Linked DNA regions of Homo sapiens. The protein of the gene in region 1 purifies or fractionates together with the protein of each later gene. This does not show direct contact. Each region holds a gene or a part of one and is shown on either strand. Other genes may lie near its edges. The genes, in order: BPNT2 and PON2.

Region 1 (8,208 bases):
TGCATAATGAGAAACCATTGGAAGGTTTTAAGCTAGGGTGCCACGGTCTGATTTAGGAAGATGGCAGGTTGCTGGGTTGAGAAGGGAAGCTCTGTAAAAGCAGTGATTTTGTCTGTTTTGTTCATTACTGTATCCCAATGTCCAAAGCAGTTTAGCGTATATAGCCATTAGATGTTGAATGAATGGGTAAATGAATATATTGTAGGAGGTGAGAACAATTGAGGACTATTGTAGAAATCCAGGTGAGAGATGGTGGCCTAAACTAAGATTTTCTTGGTAGACATGATGACATATTTAGAATTGGGAGGTAGAATTTCCAGGACTTACTGACTGATTCGATGTGGCACGCGAGAAAGGATTGAGGAAGACTTTCTGGTGTTGACCATAGCAACTATTGATAAGGTTGTTTACATTGGTGGGTAGTAGATTTTTCAGATTTGTAGGTATGTAGTGGTTGCGGCCGGTTATAAATAGCAGTTACTCAAAAGCAGATTAGGTATTTGTGCTAATGTTCTTGTTCTCCTGCTGTTTCTCCCTAACCCGATTCTCAGTGAAGATCTTTTCAAATACTGTTCTATAATGTGTTCGCTCATACTCAGCTGCAAGTACATGGAGAAGCTGACTTGAATTGTGCAAAAAATCAGTGAAGCTCAGTAGTTGCCAGACTTGGCACTGCCGTTTTGTAAGCTACAGTGGTTAAGGCCCATAAGCTACTTCGTCTTTTCTAGGAGTCATGTTTCTTTTTTTTTTGAAGTTTATTCCTTTTTGCATGGTGTTACTGTTATCTTCATTCATCTGAGGTAGTCTGGCATTGTTGTTAAGAGTGGTTTCTGAAGCCAAAATGCCTCACCAGTGCCACACTGTCTTAATTATTCTGGTCTTGATATCTGGTAAGGTAAGTCACCACACCATGATGGTATTTTTTTTCCCCTCTTCCCAAAATGTTGTGTTGCTTCTTGACTTTTTGTTCTACCATGTAATTTTCAGAAATGCCTTGTCCAGTTTCCAAGGAGAAGGTTAAAAAAAACCAACAACAACAAAAAACACTGGGGATTTTGATTGGAGTTGCATTTATCTGCAAGCTCTTTTAGATTTTCTCAGTGCTCAATAATCAACTTCATATTATGGATTGGTTTTTCTTTCTAAACTTTGTACCTCCCCACTTGCTCCTCTCCCCCTCCCTTTAGCTTACTGCAATGACTAGGACCCTCTGCACATTGTTAATAGCTGTTATGATGGAGGGCAACTGGCTCTGTGTTGCAGCCTGCGAGGTCCTTCACCATCTGGCTTCCATTACTCTCTGACCTCAGCTCCTTAGCCTTTCTCCTTGGCTCACTCTGCTGTAGCCTTGCTGGCCTCCTTGCTGCCCTCTGAACACACCAGGCACATTCCCACCTTAGGATCTTTTCATTTGTTATTTATTGGGCTAGAATGCACTTCTAGATGCCTGCCAGGCTTATTTTCTTTAGATCTCTTCAGTCAAATACCACCTTTTCAGTGAGGGGCTTCTCTAGCTACATTACTTTTTTTTCAAAACAACTTCATTGCAGCATAGTTTTTATATCTTACAATTTGTCTATTTCAAGTATACAATTCAGTAATTTTTAGAACTGCCAAATTGTACAACTATCATCATTAATCAGTTTTAGAACATTTTCACCACCCTAATAATACCCCTGACCCCATTAACTGTTTATTCTTGTTTTTATCCCTTATCCCAGGCAACCACTAATCGGTCTTTCTCTATAGATTTGCCTTTCCGGACATTTTACATTAATGGAATCAAACAGTATATGATCTCTTGTATGTTGATGCTTTCACAAAGCAAGGGGGTTCATCCATGATTTAGCATGATCAATACTTTATTCGTATATATGGCTGAGTAACTTTCCATTGTATGGATATACCAAATATATTTATCCATTCATCAGGGTAATGGATAAACTACTAATTGATGGAATTAGTAGTTTTCTGATTTTAGCCATTATGAATAATTGCCTAGCCACCCTTTCTTAATACTATCTACCCCTTTTTCTTAAAGAATAACCCTTCCACTACTCTCTAACAGTCCTTTCTCTACTCTCCAACAACACTCTTTCTGTCCTTTTGGTCTTTATTTTTTCCTCCTTATCACTATCCAGCATACTACATGTTTTTTCATGTGTCTCGTTGTTTATCTATACTAGAATCTAAGTTCCACAGGGCAGAAATTTTTGTCTCACATTGATCACTGTGGTATCTTTAAGACCTGTAACTGTGTCTGTCATATAGTAGGCAATCAATAAGCATTTGCTGAATTAATAAAGACATAAGTGAATAAATTGAATGTTTACTTTGCTCTGTACTGAGAAATATTTAAAGATTTACCAGGCGCGGTGGCTCATGCCTGTAATCCCAGTACTTTGGGAGGCCGAGGCGGGCAGATCATGAAGTCAGGAGATCGAGACCATCCTGGCCAACACGGTGAAATCTCGTCTCTACTAAAAATACAAAAATTAGCTGGGTGTGGTGGTGGGTGCCTGTAGTGCCAGCTACTCGGAGGCTGAGGCAGGAGAATCACTCGAACCCGGAAAGTGGAAGTTGCAGTGAGCCGAGATTACACCACTGCACTCCAACCTGGTGACAGAGCGAGACTCCGTCTCAAAAAAAAAAAAAAAAGAGATATTTAATGATTTAAGCGGTTTGATGTTTCTAGAATATTAGTATTTTTAACCTCTCCTGTGATAATTTGGGGTGTTTCAGGGTACCTTCTGGAGATTGGTGATAGTTATATTTTTTAAAATCATGTCTGTGTCTCTGCAACTTTCTGAAGACTATAGGTGAGAGATGTTGTATTGACAATACTCATGTATTGTCAGTGCTGTAATCGCTTTGGCACTGTAGCGTGGGGTCTAGGCATGGCATCACATGTAGCATAAACATGACCTACTCTGGAAAGGGAGCTTGTCAGAAAGCACAGGACCCAACAGCCTGTCCTGCTGAGAGTGTAAGTCCCTAACTAAAATCAAAATTTTGGGGACATTTTTTCTTGTGTGTGTGTATGATGATGTGATAGAAGTCTCATGGTGAGGCAGTATTCATATAAGATTGATGATCTGTTATTAACTTAATTCTTAAAGAACACTCAATTCTTAGATTTAGTCAATTGGTATATGCCAGTTTACAAAAGTAAATGCAGTTCTAAAACATTTTTTTATTATTATTTATTTTTTGTTTTTTTTGAGATGGAGTCTTGCTCTGTCGCCAGGCTGGAGTGCAGTGGCGTGATCTTGGCTCACTGCAACCTCCACCTCCAGGGTTCAAGTGATTCTCCTGCCTCAGCCTCCCGAGTGGTTGGAACTACAGGCACGCACCACCATGCCTGGCTAATTTTTGTATTTTTAGTAGAGATGGGGTTTTACCATGTCGGCCAGGATGGCCTTGATCTCTTGACCTCGTGATCCAGCCGCCTCGGCCTCCCGAAGTGCTGGGATTACAGGCGTGAGCCACCACACTTGGCCAAAACATTATTTTTAAAACACTGTTTTACAAATTAGACTAATTTTAGGATGCATTAAGAAGCACACTGTTGAAAACAGTGTTTTTTACATAGGATGGGACAGGGGCGCACTTGACAATGTCCGGAGACATTTTTGTTTGTCACACCTGAGGGTGTTGTTGCTGGCATCTGGTGCGTTCTAGTGGCATTCAGCCAGGGATGCTGTTAAACATCCTACAATGCACAGGACAGCCCCACAACAAGGAATTATACAGTCCAAATTGTCAGTCGTGCCAAATTGAGCAATCTCAATTTAAAGGAATCTGTAATGTGTTTGTAAATGAATAGAATACTTACATAAAGTATTATACAAACACATGTATATATATGTTATATGTAGAAATAATATATAATATATATTATACAGAGAGAATATATATGTGTAAGGGGGGTTTGTGTGTGTGTGTGTGTGTGTGTGTGTGTGTGTATATGTATGTATGTAAGGGTGTGGGGTAAGGAGAGAATATATTCCTTAAGGAGAGAATATATTCCTCTATTCTCGTAACAACCCTTCCTCTACTTATATTTCTCTCCTTACCCCACATCCTTACATATCTGTATGGTAAGTTAAATTTATTTTATCTTTTAATTTTGTTCCTTAGTTAAAAAAAAAAAGGTAGAAAATTTGACTGTACCTCCCTATTCTATGATACGTCTTTCTTCTAACTCTAGTTGCTTGTGTTGTGTTCCAGAATATTGTCTATTTTCACACTTTAGAGCTATTATCTTTCATAAAGCATTGTTAAGGTTTAAGTAGCTTGTTTCTTCAATGCTCAGTTTCTCTATATTTCTCTATATCCGAATTATCTGTCTTGATTAGTCAACAAACCAGGCTTGAATATTAGATTGGGAAGCATTTAAAGACCTGATGTCATGGATTTTTTTTTTTCATTTTCATTTTCATTTTGCAATATGGAGCATCAAAAGAAATAAAAATAGGGATTTACTTATTTATAATTTGGGTGATTGTTGTCTGAAATACTTTTGTAGTTTATCAAATAGTGATTGTTCGTCTTACTTTTTTTAACTGTCACCTGTTTTTAATGCAGATTAATACTGAGGAACACGTGGATGCAGCTGATCAGGAGGTTATCTTGTGGGATCATAAGATTCCTGAGGATATCCTAAAGGAAGTAACTACTCCTAAAGAGGTACCAGCAGAAAGTGTTACTGTCTGGATTGACCCACTTGATGCTACACAGGAATATACAGGTAATTTTTAAACTGAACTCAAAACATTTGATTGACGTTTAGTAGTAGAGAACCAGAACCAAGGCATACTTCCTATAGGTGATAGTGGCTCACTGATTGTTCAGTAAAGAAGCATTTTTAACAGTAGTAGCAAAATGTTTTATATTGGACACCTATAATTGAAGAAACTTCTTTAGCCAGAATTTAATGTTTACTCGGGATGTTAGGAATTTAAGTTTTAATGCATGTACATCTGACTTTGGAATTCAAAATAGTAAATTTCTAGGTACCCAGAAGGCAAGTAAGTAACAAAACAGAACTACTGTCCCTCCAGTCCCCTTTTTTACCTAGTCCTAGTCAGATTTTATTTTTGTAGATCCCCTCTCAGGCCTTGTTTCTTACCCACAGGTAGCTAATTTCTGCCTTTTCACTCTTCATTTGGTTTATATGTTACAGTTTATCTATTTATCCTGATAGATGGTAAGTTCTGTAAATGTGGAGCCTTCTACCTTTTTACCTTTGTATTTCAGTGCTTTTGCACTGAACTTGAACCATAACAATCAATACATAACTTTGGAGAACAGGGAGAAGACACTAGATGTATATATCTAATAGTAACTAAAATTACAGCACAGAACTTTTCAGGAGTAGATAATAGAAATATGGAATATCGAGAAATTTGTTCATAAAAAGTTCTCCTAAACTGAGATTGGCCTGTTCATATAGTAATAACATTTAGTGAGCACATCCCTCGTGCAGGGACTTTCTTAAGCATCTAATTTGATTTTTTTTATTAAAAGTTAATTTATACCTAAAGATGAGTGCTTAGTTATTGTTTATATTATACAGACAAGGAAGCTGAATTTAAGTAATTTACTCAAGGACATTCAGTTAACAAAATGGTGGGCTAGGAGAATAACCCAGGTAATGCCTGTAGAACCAGAACTCTTTTGTTTGTGTGATTTTTATAATATAAAAGGGTCTTGACTCTAAATGCAATTTGTTTTAAAACTTTTAAGTTCAGGAGTACAAGTGCAGGTTTGTTACATAGGGTAAACTTGTGTCATGAGGGTTTGTTGTACAGATTTGTTTCAACACCCAAGTATTAAGCCTAGTATCCATTAGTTATTTTTCCTGATTCTCTTCCTCCTCCCACTCTCTATCCTCTGAAAGGCCCCAGTGTGTGGTGTTCCCCTCTATGTGTCCATGTGTTCTCATCATTTAGCTCCCCACTTAGAGAACATGTGGTATTTGGTTTTCTGTTCCTGTGTTAGTTTGCTAAGGATAATGGCCTCCAGCTCCATCCATGCCCCTGCAAAGGACCTGATCATGTTCTTTTTTATGGCTGCATAGTATTGCACGGTGTATATGTACCACATTTTTTTTTTTTTACCTGGTCTATCATTGATGGGCATTTAAGATGATTCCATGTCTTTGCTATTGTGAATAGTGCTGCAGTGAACATACACATGCATGTGTCTTTATAATAGAATGATTTATATTCTTTTGGACCAGTAATGGGAATGCTGGGTCGAATAGTATTTCTTTCTTCAGGCCTTTGAGGAATTGCCACACTGTCTACCACAGTGGCTTAACTAATTTACACTCCCACCAACAGTGTATAAGCATTCCTTTTTTTCCACAACCTCACTTGCATCTGTTATTTTTTGACTTTTTAATAATAGCCATTCTGACTAGTGTGAGATGGTATCTCATCGTGAACCAGAACTGTTAGCCACTCCTTTAAAGGGGCTCTTGCCCTCAGACTCTGTTTGCTTGAAGGGATTGTTGTTTTGGAAAGATATTTCATGTATATAAATTTTTTAATGAACTAAAGTGTAATATTGTATCTTGAATTTATGCACATTACTTTGACATTTGTGTGTGTTGTTTTGTTTTTTTTCTCATAGAGGATCTTCGAAAGTACGTCACTACTATGGTGTGTGTGGCTGTAAATGGTAAACCCATGCTAGGAGTTATACATAAGCCATTTTCCGAATATACAGGTATGAAATTTGCTAGAACTTTCAAGAATTATTGTTATTGAACTGTTTGTCTATAGTATTTACTGTCATGTACCTAAATTTGTATCCACTCCTATATTAGTTTCCTAGGGCTGCTGTAAGAAAAAAACACAAATTATGTGTCTTAAACAACAAAAATGTAGTGTCTGACAGTTCTGGAGCCTAGAAATCTAAAATCGTGGTGCTGAAACTGTAAGGGAGTATCTTTTTTGTTTCTTTTAGCTTCTGGCAATTTGCCAGCATTCTGTGGTGTTCATTGGCTTATAAGTGTTTATTCCAGTGTCTGCCTCCATCATCATATGGCATTCTCTCTGTGTGTCTGTGTCTCTTCTCCTCTTACAAGCACACCAGTCATATTGGATTCAGCGCCCACCCTACTCTAGTGTGACCTCATCTCAACGTAGTACATCTGCCATGACCCTATTTCTAAATAAAGTCAGATTTCAAGGTGCTGGGAGTGAGGATGTCAACATATCTTTTTGGGGGACACAGTTTAACCATAACAACCCAGAAAGTTAAGGTAAGCATTGAGATGAGATTATACTGGATTAGAGAAGGTTCTTAAGCCAATTAGAGTGTTTTTATAAGAAACAGAAAGGACATAGACACATGTGGGATAAGATGATGTGAAGGTGGAGGCAGAGATTGGAGTGATGTCTTTAATAGGCTAAGGACTGCAGTCACCAGAAGCTAGGAGAGAGCCATGGAAGTTATTTTCCCTCAAAGCCTCCAGAAGAAACTAACCCTGCTGACCCCTTGATTTTAGACTTCTGGCCTTTAGAATTATAAGAAAATACATATATTTTTATAAGCCACCAAGTTTGTGGTACAGATTGAGTATCCATTATCTGAAACGTTTGGGGACCAGAAGTGTTTCACATTGCAGATTTAATGTATTTGCATATATATAATGAGATATATTGGAGATAGGACCCAAGTATAAACATGAACTTTATTTATATTTCATATATAGCTTGTTTACATAGCTTGAAGGTAATGTTATACAACATTTTAAATAATTTTATGGTTGAAGCAAAGTTCTATCTGTGAGCTATCATGAGGTCCAGTATGGAATTTTCCATTTGTGACATCATGTCAGTGCTTTCCTGGATTTTGGAGCATTTCAGATTTTGGAATTTTGGATTAGGGATTCTCAACCTGTAGTTTTTTATGGCAGCTTTAGGACACTGATACAATGGGCATCCCATACTACCATCGTTTACTGCAGTCATCCCCATTGTGTCTTAAGGGCGTGACTGATAATTGCATAAAAAGGCTGTCTGTGAAGTGGGGAGAAATGGAAAGACAAAGTTAATTTTTGATTACTCTAAAATTATGTATTTGTTTTGCTGAATAACTGTGAATCCCAAATTCTGGCTGCTCTGAGATTGGCTAAACATCTATTTGAGTGTTGGCTCTGTGTTTCAAAATCAAGTCCACTTTGTGCTATCTGAC
Region 2 (8,208 bases), on another chromosome or scaffold:
CATTATTTGAGTTACATGATTTCAAATACATACTGATTAACATTTTAATTAGAAACTTTATGTCTGATATGAATTGCCAAAATGTGTAGTTGGTACAACCTATGAGTCATTCTGGGTTATCTAGAAGAAACTGGTAGCCTGCCCCATACTCCAGAAGCCTTCCCCAGTGTCTAGACCTCAGAAGCTGTCAGGAATATGCACAGGAGAAGGACACATGGCAAATAGCTATTTCGTCTCTTAAATGTATGGTATGTGGGAACCACTGAAAAATGTAAAGTTTCTACAAGGTGCTATTTTTATTATTTATGGCTCTAGAGAACAGAGAAGGTGAAAAATGTGAGAGAGAAGGGAAAGCCAATAGTATGTGGCCTTCAAAACAAAAGATCCCACAGATATTGTCCCAAACTGCTTCCTGGCCCTCTAGAGTGGAGAGGGAGGGGGAAGACATCCTATTAGAGTTCAACATTCTCTTATTATTTCCTTCTTTTAATTTTCTGGGTATACAACAGCAAATAGTTTTGCTGAAGTAGTTACAGAACTAGTTGGTGTTCTCCAACCTTCCTATTCCAATACATACTGTCATGGATGGGTACACTAAAATCTCAGAATTCACTGCTATATCACTCATCCATGTAACCAAAAACCACATGTACCCCCAAAAGCTATTGAAATAAGATAAATACATTCTTATTTAAAAAAATACTGTCATAGGGATGCTACCTTCTTTTCTTTTTTGTTAGTAACTATTTGTGGGATGTCTTTGGTGTGTCAGGCTCTGAGCAATGCCATTTTCTCTTGGCTTCTTTGCAGTCTCTGTGTGAGGCTTACAGTCATTTTTCACGTTTGACTCTTCAGAAGGAAGACAGGGCTACTGGTTCTACATCTGGAACTCTTTTCCCACAACACCAACACTGAGAAATGTGACATGGTGCTGTGTTTACATTTGCATAGGAACTTGCATTATAAGTTTTATTTGTTGAGTTATTGGCTTTTTTTTTTTAATAACCCACATCAGTATATAGAACTTTGCAATAGGCATTTTTGTTTTAACTTCATTTCTGGTGCAGTTTTATTTTCCTACCCTTGTCTTTCTATTTTCTCTTTCATCTGCTTTAGACTTAAACTGTGTTTTATGTATTGCTGTAAGCCTCTTTAAACCCTTTCTAAAACAAAGCAGGGAATACATAAACAAATAGTTTTTTGTTTTTTGTTTTTTTTTCTTTGTAACAGAAATCGACTTAAAGCCTCCAGAGAAGTAGAATCTGTAGACCTTCCACACTGCCACCTGATTAAAGGAATTGGTATGTATATGAAAATGCTTGTTGGGCACATTGCATTTTTTGGCCATTAACATTAAAACACTCATTAATGGCATTTTAGCATGAAATTACTGCTTTTCAGTGGATAAATCACATTAGATCAACAAAAACCTCTTTGGTCAACCTCTTGATCTGATGAACCCTGTATTTATTCTTCTTTCCTACCCTCACTGTAAATTATTCTTTTTTGTGTGTAATTCTATGTTTAGCATTTGATTTCTTGCTTGTTTTGTGACTTCTCTGAACTATTTTTGTTGCGTCTGTATTGTTTGTCAGGTATGGCCGCTGCAGTCTGTGTTCTGTGAGCCTTGTGGTCAGCTAGTGAAGGAAGCTTTATGTAGGCAGTGACAGCATTTACCCTGCTCACTACTCTATAACTAGGATCTGATCTTATGGCTAACACGTAACTGACCAATATGGTTTGGTTGTGTCCCCACCCGAATCTCATCTTGAATTGTAGTTCCCATAATCCCCACGTGTTGTGGGAGGGACCCAGTGAGAGGTCATTGAATCATGAGGTGGTTACCCTGTGCTGCTGTTCTCGTGATAGTGAGTGAGTTCTCATGAGATCTGATGGTTTTATAAGGGCTTTTCCCCCTTTTGCTCGGCACTTCTCCTTGCTGCCGCCATGTGAAGAAGGGTGTGTTTTCTTCCCCTTCCACCAAGATTGTAAGTTTCCTGAAGCCTCCCCAACCACACGGAACAGTGAGTCAATTAAACCTCTTTCCTTTATAAATTACCCGGTCTCAGGTATGTCTTTATTAGCAGCCTGAGAACGGACTGATGTACCGGCACTTCACAATATGTATTGTAAAAACTTGTTTTTATTTTATCTTCTAAGCTATGACTGCAGAGGGGGAGTCTCCCTCTTCCCTTGACTTTATGTAGGATGTATTGTGGAGTCTGAGTCTTTGAGTAGGGGTTCCTAAGAGCAAGCCCCAATTTTGCTATAGATAAGGAGGGATCTGTCCAGATTCTTCTCCAGCACTGAGGGTCTCTCTGGTGTGTTTGCAGTTTTTCTCCAAGGTAGAGTCTGTGTCTTGCTGTCTTTTACCCTTTATCATCTACTAAGTACATGTCCCTAGTACATAATAGACTAGTAGTTAGATTATCAATGAACAATAAATATTGGCTTTCCTTTTTTTTAAATTTTAATTTTTTTTTTTTTTTTTTTTGAGAGGTGGCCTCACTTTGTCACCCAGGCCAGAATGCAGTAGCGCAATCTTGGCTCACTGCAGCCCTGATATCCTGGGCTCAAGCGATCCTCCCGCCTCGTCCTCCCAGGTAGCTGAGACTACAGGCACATGCCCCCACTCATGGCTAGTTTTTTATTTTTGTAGAGACAGGGTCTTGTTATGTTGTCCAGGCTGGTCTTGAACTCCTGGCCTCAAGCAATCCTCCCAGCTTGGTCTCCCAAAGTGCTGGGATTGCAGGCATGAGGCACTGAGCCCAGCCAATATTGGCTTTCCTTAGATATGGTTCATGGTATGATTAGAAACAAAAAGAATTAGCAGTCAAAACACCTAGTTTCTAGTTCTATTCTGCCACAATGTAACCTTAGGCAAAGTTGGTTTTTGTATTTGTCACCTATAATGATGAGTTTGTGATTAGACTAATGGTTTTTAGACTTTAAAAAGCCTGGGACCATTTATTTATAATCTTACTCTGAGAGCCACAGTGTGGAAATAACTAGACTGTCATTGAGTCACTTCTAGTCCTTTACAACAACATCCTTCTCTAGAGGTAGGAGAGACAATTTAATATTTTGTTTTACTCTTTAGAAATTAAAACTCGGGTTACATGGAAATGTTCTCTTCTCTGAATAGGTAACATTGTTAAACAAGTTTTGAGTGTCCTTCCATCTTTTTCTTTTTATGAATACTCCTGTACATAATTTTTAAAAACATAAGTGAGGTCAAATTATGCATAATATTTCAAAACTAGCTTTTTGTACTTAATACTAGGTTTTGGAAACTTATGTTTGTACATAATGTTACCTTTTCTTCACAACTGCACAGTATTTTTTGTGCAAAGTTCATATAAACAGTGTATGTGCAAACAATATAGAAAGATATAAAATGGAAAGTAAATAAAAATAAAAATCTCTCATCAAACTCTTCATCACCCCCAACAGAAATAACCCCAAAGATAAAGCTCCCTTTTTTATCTTTCCTGATAGTTTCAGTGCATTTGCAAACAAATATATTGACTCTTTTTTTCACAAATAGAATTTTAGTGTAAATATTTCACAACCTTCTTCATTCCTAAAACAGTGTGAGCAGCTTTCCACATCAGCATATATAGTTACTTTGTTCTTTTTAATATTTTCACATTCCATGATTTATTTAACCATTCCCCTTTTAATGTACATTTGGGTTGTTACAGTTTTTTGCAACTATGAACAAATCAGTGAACATCATTGCTGTTGAGTTTGTGTGTCTGTAGAATATGTCCTTAACAATGGGATTGTTGTTCCCTTAGAATATGTGTTTAGAGTTTTGACAGTCATTGCTAAGTTGCTCTCAATTTGGCAACAGTAATAAACTCAGTACCTCATAGTTGTAACCACATTCACTCCAGACAGAGTTCTCAGCACTCTTTTAGTAAAAATAAACCATCAGTTGACAGTGCCACCTTCAGAGTTTCTCTACAAATACCTTGCTTGCCTCCCTTTCTTTTTTTCTTCTTTTAAATCAGCTTCCTCAGGTTGATCTGCCTCTCATTCCTTAGGCATCTGTTTCCTATGTGTTCTTTCTCCTTTTTTTCATTGATACTTTTGTATTTCCCCAGTTCTACCTCCCCTCCCCTAGACTGGTTGGCTGTCCTGGAATTTCCCTTCCTTCTTTCAATTGCCCAAACACTAAGTGGGAGGAGGCAAACTCATATCAAATAGCAGATTGACTACATCTGTGCTGGATCATGCAGACAGTTCAAGAGTCCCAAGTAACTTAGCAGCTTCATCTTGCCTTCCAGCTGCAATCAAGAAGAGCCCTCTCAGAACTGGTCACTCAGCAAAAGCCAGATGGCATTAGTAAAAGATGTTGGGCAAGGGTGGGAGTTTGGGCCAGTGATCTCTTAGGTTACTTTTGCTGCTGAGTTAATAATTGTCACATTATTAAACAGCCCTTGGCCCTGGGAAGCCCACCTTCTGTGAATACAAGTCTCAGAGTAGACAATAGGGCACAACCAGCCATGTTACATGACAGACTGCCAAGTGCATTCCTCTTACAACTCACTGGGATGGAGCGCTCCTCAGAGAAAAACAAGCCCAGCAACATTTGTATTCTGAACAGGCATCTGTCTATGTTTGTGACCTTTATGTTGTGATGTGTGTGAGCTGCTGTCTGGAATTGGAAAGAATGAGGAAATATGTCACCTATGGCCCCTCTTGTGAAGTGTTAAATGCCTCTGAGGCACTTCAAAAGGCAACAGAGCGGAGAGGATGAGTGATTAGAAGCACATTTGGGATACATTTTTAGATCTAATTAGAATTGTCCTTTTTTTTTTCTTTTTTGCTTTTGCCCTGTGGTTAGCACACACCATATGAACGTTTGTCGAATGCTATGTTAGTGATGCATAATGGTTAATAATAACTTTTGGTTATATATCTTTAACAACAGTTGCTTATTCACAGGTCTTTGATAAGAAGAAATAACAATGTGCTGGACACACATTTCTATACAGGCAAAAGTGACTTTTTATGATAGAGAGGGCTGTTTCTTATTTTCTGTTTTGAAAACAGTAGTAGCTATGCACTTGAGGCCAACTAATCCCTCTAAGAGGTGAACCTTCCTTCCCCCTTGCCCTTGATTCCCATCAACACACACATACATATGCACACACTACCGTGCTTCAGTCACCATCACTGGAAGTGAACTATGTGCAACTTTTGGGTGCTTTATATATATCATATCATATTGTGTCTGCTTTAATAAATCATAGTTATTGACTACATATCATACAGGATGTGTGCCTTCTGTGGGTCAGAAAATAAGTTCACTATTTAGTCCTTTTCAAAAATTCCTTCCCGATCTATCTTATAGACAGAAACTAAGCTTTTATACACCCAAGATTTGGCAGATTAACATCTGCATATTAAAATGTCAAGAGCTAGTTAACTTTATTTGAGGCTTAAAAGTTAAAAAATCTGATTTTCTAAATGTCTGGCCTTCAAAATTTGAGTGGACTGTCTTTCTCAAGATAACTAACAATTTTATGCACTTGGCAGTCAAGACCTTTACAATAACTGCTGCTTGGGAGATTGAGGGGAAAAAAGCATTAAAGTTTGTGGCCCTTATAATCAAGTACTTTACAGTCTACTGATGGGAGAAAAGGAAAACAAAACAAAACAAAAAACCACTGTGAGATATAGATATGTCTTTTCTTTCTCTAGCAGATAAGTACCTGAGGCTCAAGGAGGTTAAGCAACTTTTGCAAATTCACTTTCCAATATAGTGTCTTTTCCCAGGGTGACTAATGTATATACTTGATGAGTGAACCAGAAAAGTAGGAAATAATATGTTACATATGGGATGCTCTATTGGGTATAGTAAAGGATGCGTTGCTGTTATAAAATTATAGTCACTTAGAAAAGAGATGTTTATTTTTATTTTTCTCTCATCAGTCTTAAGGTAAGTGAATGGCCTAGGGTAGTTAGGTGACTGTGTTCCATATGGTCATTCAGGGGCAAATGCTGATGAAGCAACACAGCTGTCTTCATCTAAGACTAGAACTCTGCTTGTTGCCATTTCCCAGCAGGAAGGGGTTGAAAGAAAATTTATGTAGATTTTTTTTTCTACCCAGTAGTTGCATATATATTGTATTCTCACATCCTATTGACCCAAACTTAGACATATGGCCACATCTGTCAGCCAGAAAGGGTGGGCAATGTTATCTATAGCTGTGTTGCTACGTGCCTATTGCTAAAAAGGCTAAAAAGGAAGAAGGGGAACATGGATGCTGGTGAACACTTGGCCACCTCTGACACAGATAATTGCTAAAGTAATAAGAAGAGATGGAAATTAAATGTGCTAAGCTAGGAGACTTTCTAAAGAAAGGGTTTGTCATGCTACGCTGTGCCATTCATGTGTTTTTTTGCTCATGCTGTTCCTTGTGCCTGGAAATTCTCCCCCTAATTCCCCTGAGCAGTGGATGCAGTGGATACCCTCCCCAGATCCCCCCCAACTTCCCTGAGTGTTGGCTACCAAAAGCTCTGAGTGCACCCAGGGAGCTAAGTCCTCCTGCCCACAGGCAATAATGGACTGACACGGGGTAGACTTAAAGAAATAAGAGGCACATCAATCAATTGAAATGTGTGGGACCTTACCTGGACTCTGAATTAAACAAACTGTAATTTTTTAAAGCTACACCTTTTAAACATGATTGGCTATTTGAACACTAACTAGATATTTGATGATATTGAGGAATTATTGTGAATTTTTAGTGTAGTAATGATATTGTGGTTTGTATAAATATATTTAGGGATAATATGATGCCTCAGATTTGCTTTAAAATAACACAGGATGAGGATAAGTGGTAGGACTGCAAGGGAAACAAGACTGGCCATGAGCTGATAACTGTTGAAGGTGGGTACTGGGTATATAAGGGCTCACCACACCATTCTCTTGATTTGTGTCTATTTCCCATAATAAAAAGTTTAAAGAGAGAGAACCGATGAAGGGGAGGGAGAGAGTCAAGCACACAATAAGAGTGACAAACAGTGCCAAATCAGCCCACAGTATTAAGTTTTCACATATTTACATAAATATCACCTGGAATGCAATATTGAAATTAATGTATATCACTAGAATAAAAAAAGTAAAGATTTAATAAATTTGTTTTGAAATAAAATAAGTTGAAATACGAAAAAGACAGAAAAGGTTTTGAAAGAGGTTTTAAAGAAAAGTGCAGGATATTCATTGGTAAAGATGTTGGTGAGAGGCTTGGAAGCAAAACTTCAGGGGAAAAAGACAACATATGGAATTGACCACAATTGAATTTACAAGTGAAGTGGCTTTACAGAGGAATCAGGGGATGTTTCTGAGAGAGGAAATTCATTAAATTCTAACTTGAATATTTTCTGTTTGCCTTTAAGTCAGAGCAAAGGCTTTGAGTCCCAGCTTCCCAGTTTGTGACCTTGAGCAATTGCTTAACTTTTCCAAAGCCTCCAATAGTCTTCACTCTAAAATAAAAGATAATCATATGAGATATTGTATGCAGGGTATTTACAAGGAGCCTGGTACTTGGTGTACCTAATGTATGTTAGTTATTATTATTAAATTAGAGGAGCAAAAATTTCTCTAGCATTGACTGCTCCTGACATAATCACACCGAAGAGGGGATACACGATGATAAAACCTTCCTGCAGTAGTGGCTATAGAAATGATGACGGGGAGAAGATCTGGAAAATATTCCAAAGAAGGCTACAGATAGATACATTTTTTCCATTGGAATTAGGCAATGGAGTTAAACAGAAGTTACAATATGGTTGAAATAAATGTATTTTTTTAAAAAAAGATTTCTCTTTCCTTAATTATTAAAAAATATACAATTTTGTAGAAAATTTTAAACAAAGTATAAAGAAAAAAATAAAAATCATTCATAATCCTATCAAAGAAGCATTGTTAATTTTTTCTATATATCTTCTTTTTCCACGTGTATACTTGGAAATTAAATTTTCTAAAATAATTTTCAGGAAAAACAAATTTTAATTAATTGAGCTTCTACTAAATAGGACTGAAAAGCAAAACCTGGACTAGAATTCTCTCTCGGTGTGTGTGTGTGTGTGTGTGTGTGTGTGTGTGTGTCTGTGTGTACATGTGTATGTGCTGTGTATACATGTGTATGTGGTGTAGCGTTCCCCTGATTCTTAACTTATTACCAGTGGACA

The links.
Region 2: the proteins of BPNT2 (region 1) and PON2 purify together in Homo sapiens (affinity purification with mass spectrometry; 2 studies listed by BioGRID and IntAct, with this or other methods). This does not show direct contact.

Annotation. Positions count from the first base shown.
Region 1 is NC_000008.11:56,976,577-56,984,784, reverse strand, and holds part of BPNT2 (Golgi-resident adenosine 3',5'-bisphosphate 3'-phosphatase), read left to right. Parts: intron 1-4,587; coding exon 4,588-4,750; intron 4,751-6,639; coding exon 6,640-6,735; intron 6,736-8,208. UniProt on the Homo sapiens protein: Exhibits 3'-nucleotidase activity toward adenosine 3',5'-bisphosphate (PAP), namely hydrolyzes adenosine 3',5'-bisphosphate into adenosine 5'-monophosphate (AMP) and a phosphate.
Region 2 is NC_000007.14:95,417,608-95,425,815, reverse strand, and holds part of PON2 (serum paraoxonase/arylesterase 2), read left to right. Parts: intron 1-1,230; coding exon 1,231-1,301; intron 1,302-2,127; exon of another isoform or gene 2,128-7,500; intron 7,501-8,208. UniProt on the Homo sapiens protein: Capable of hydrolyzing lactones and a number of aromatic carboxylic acid esters. Has antioxidant activity. Is not associated with high density lipoprotein.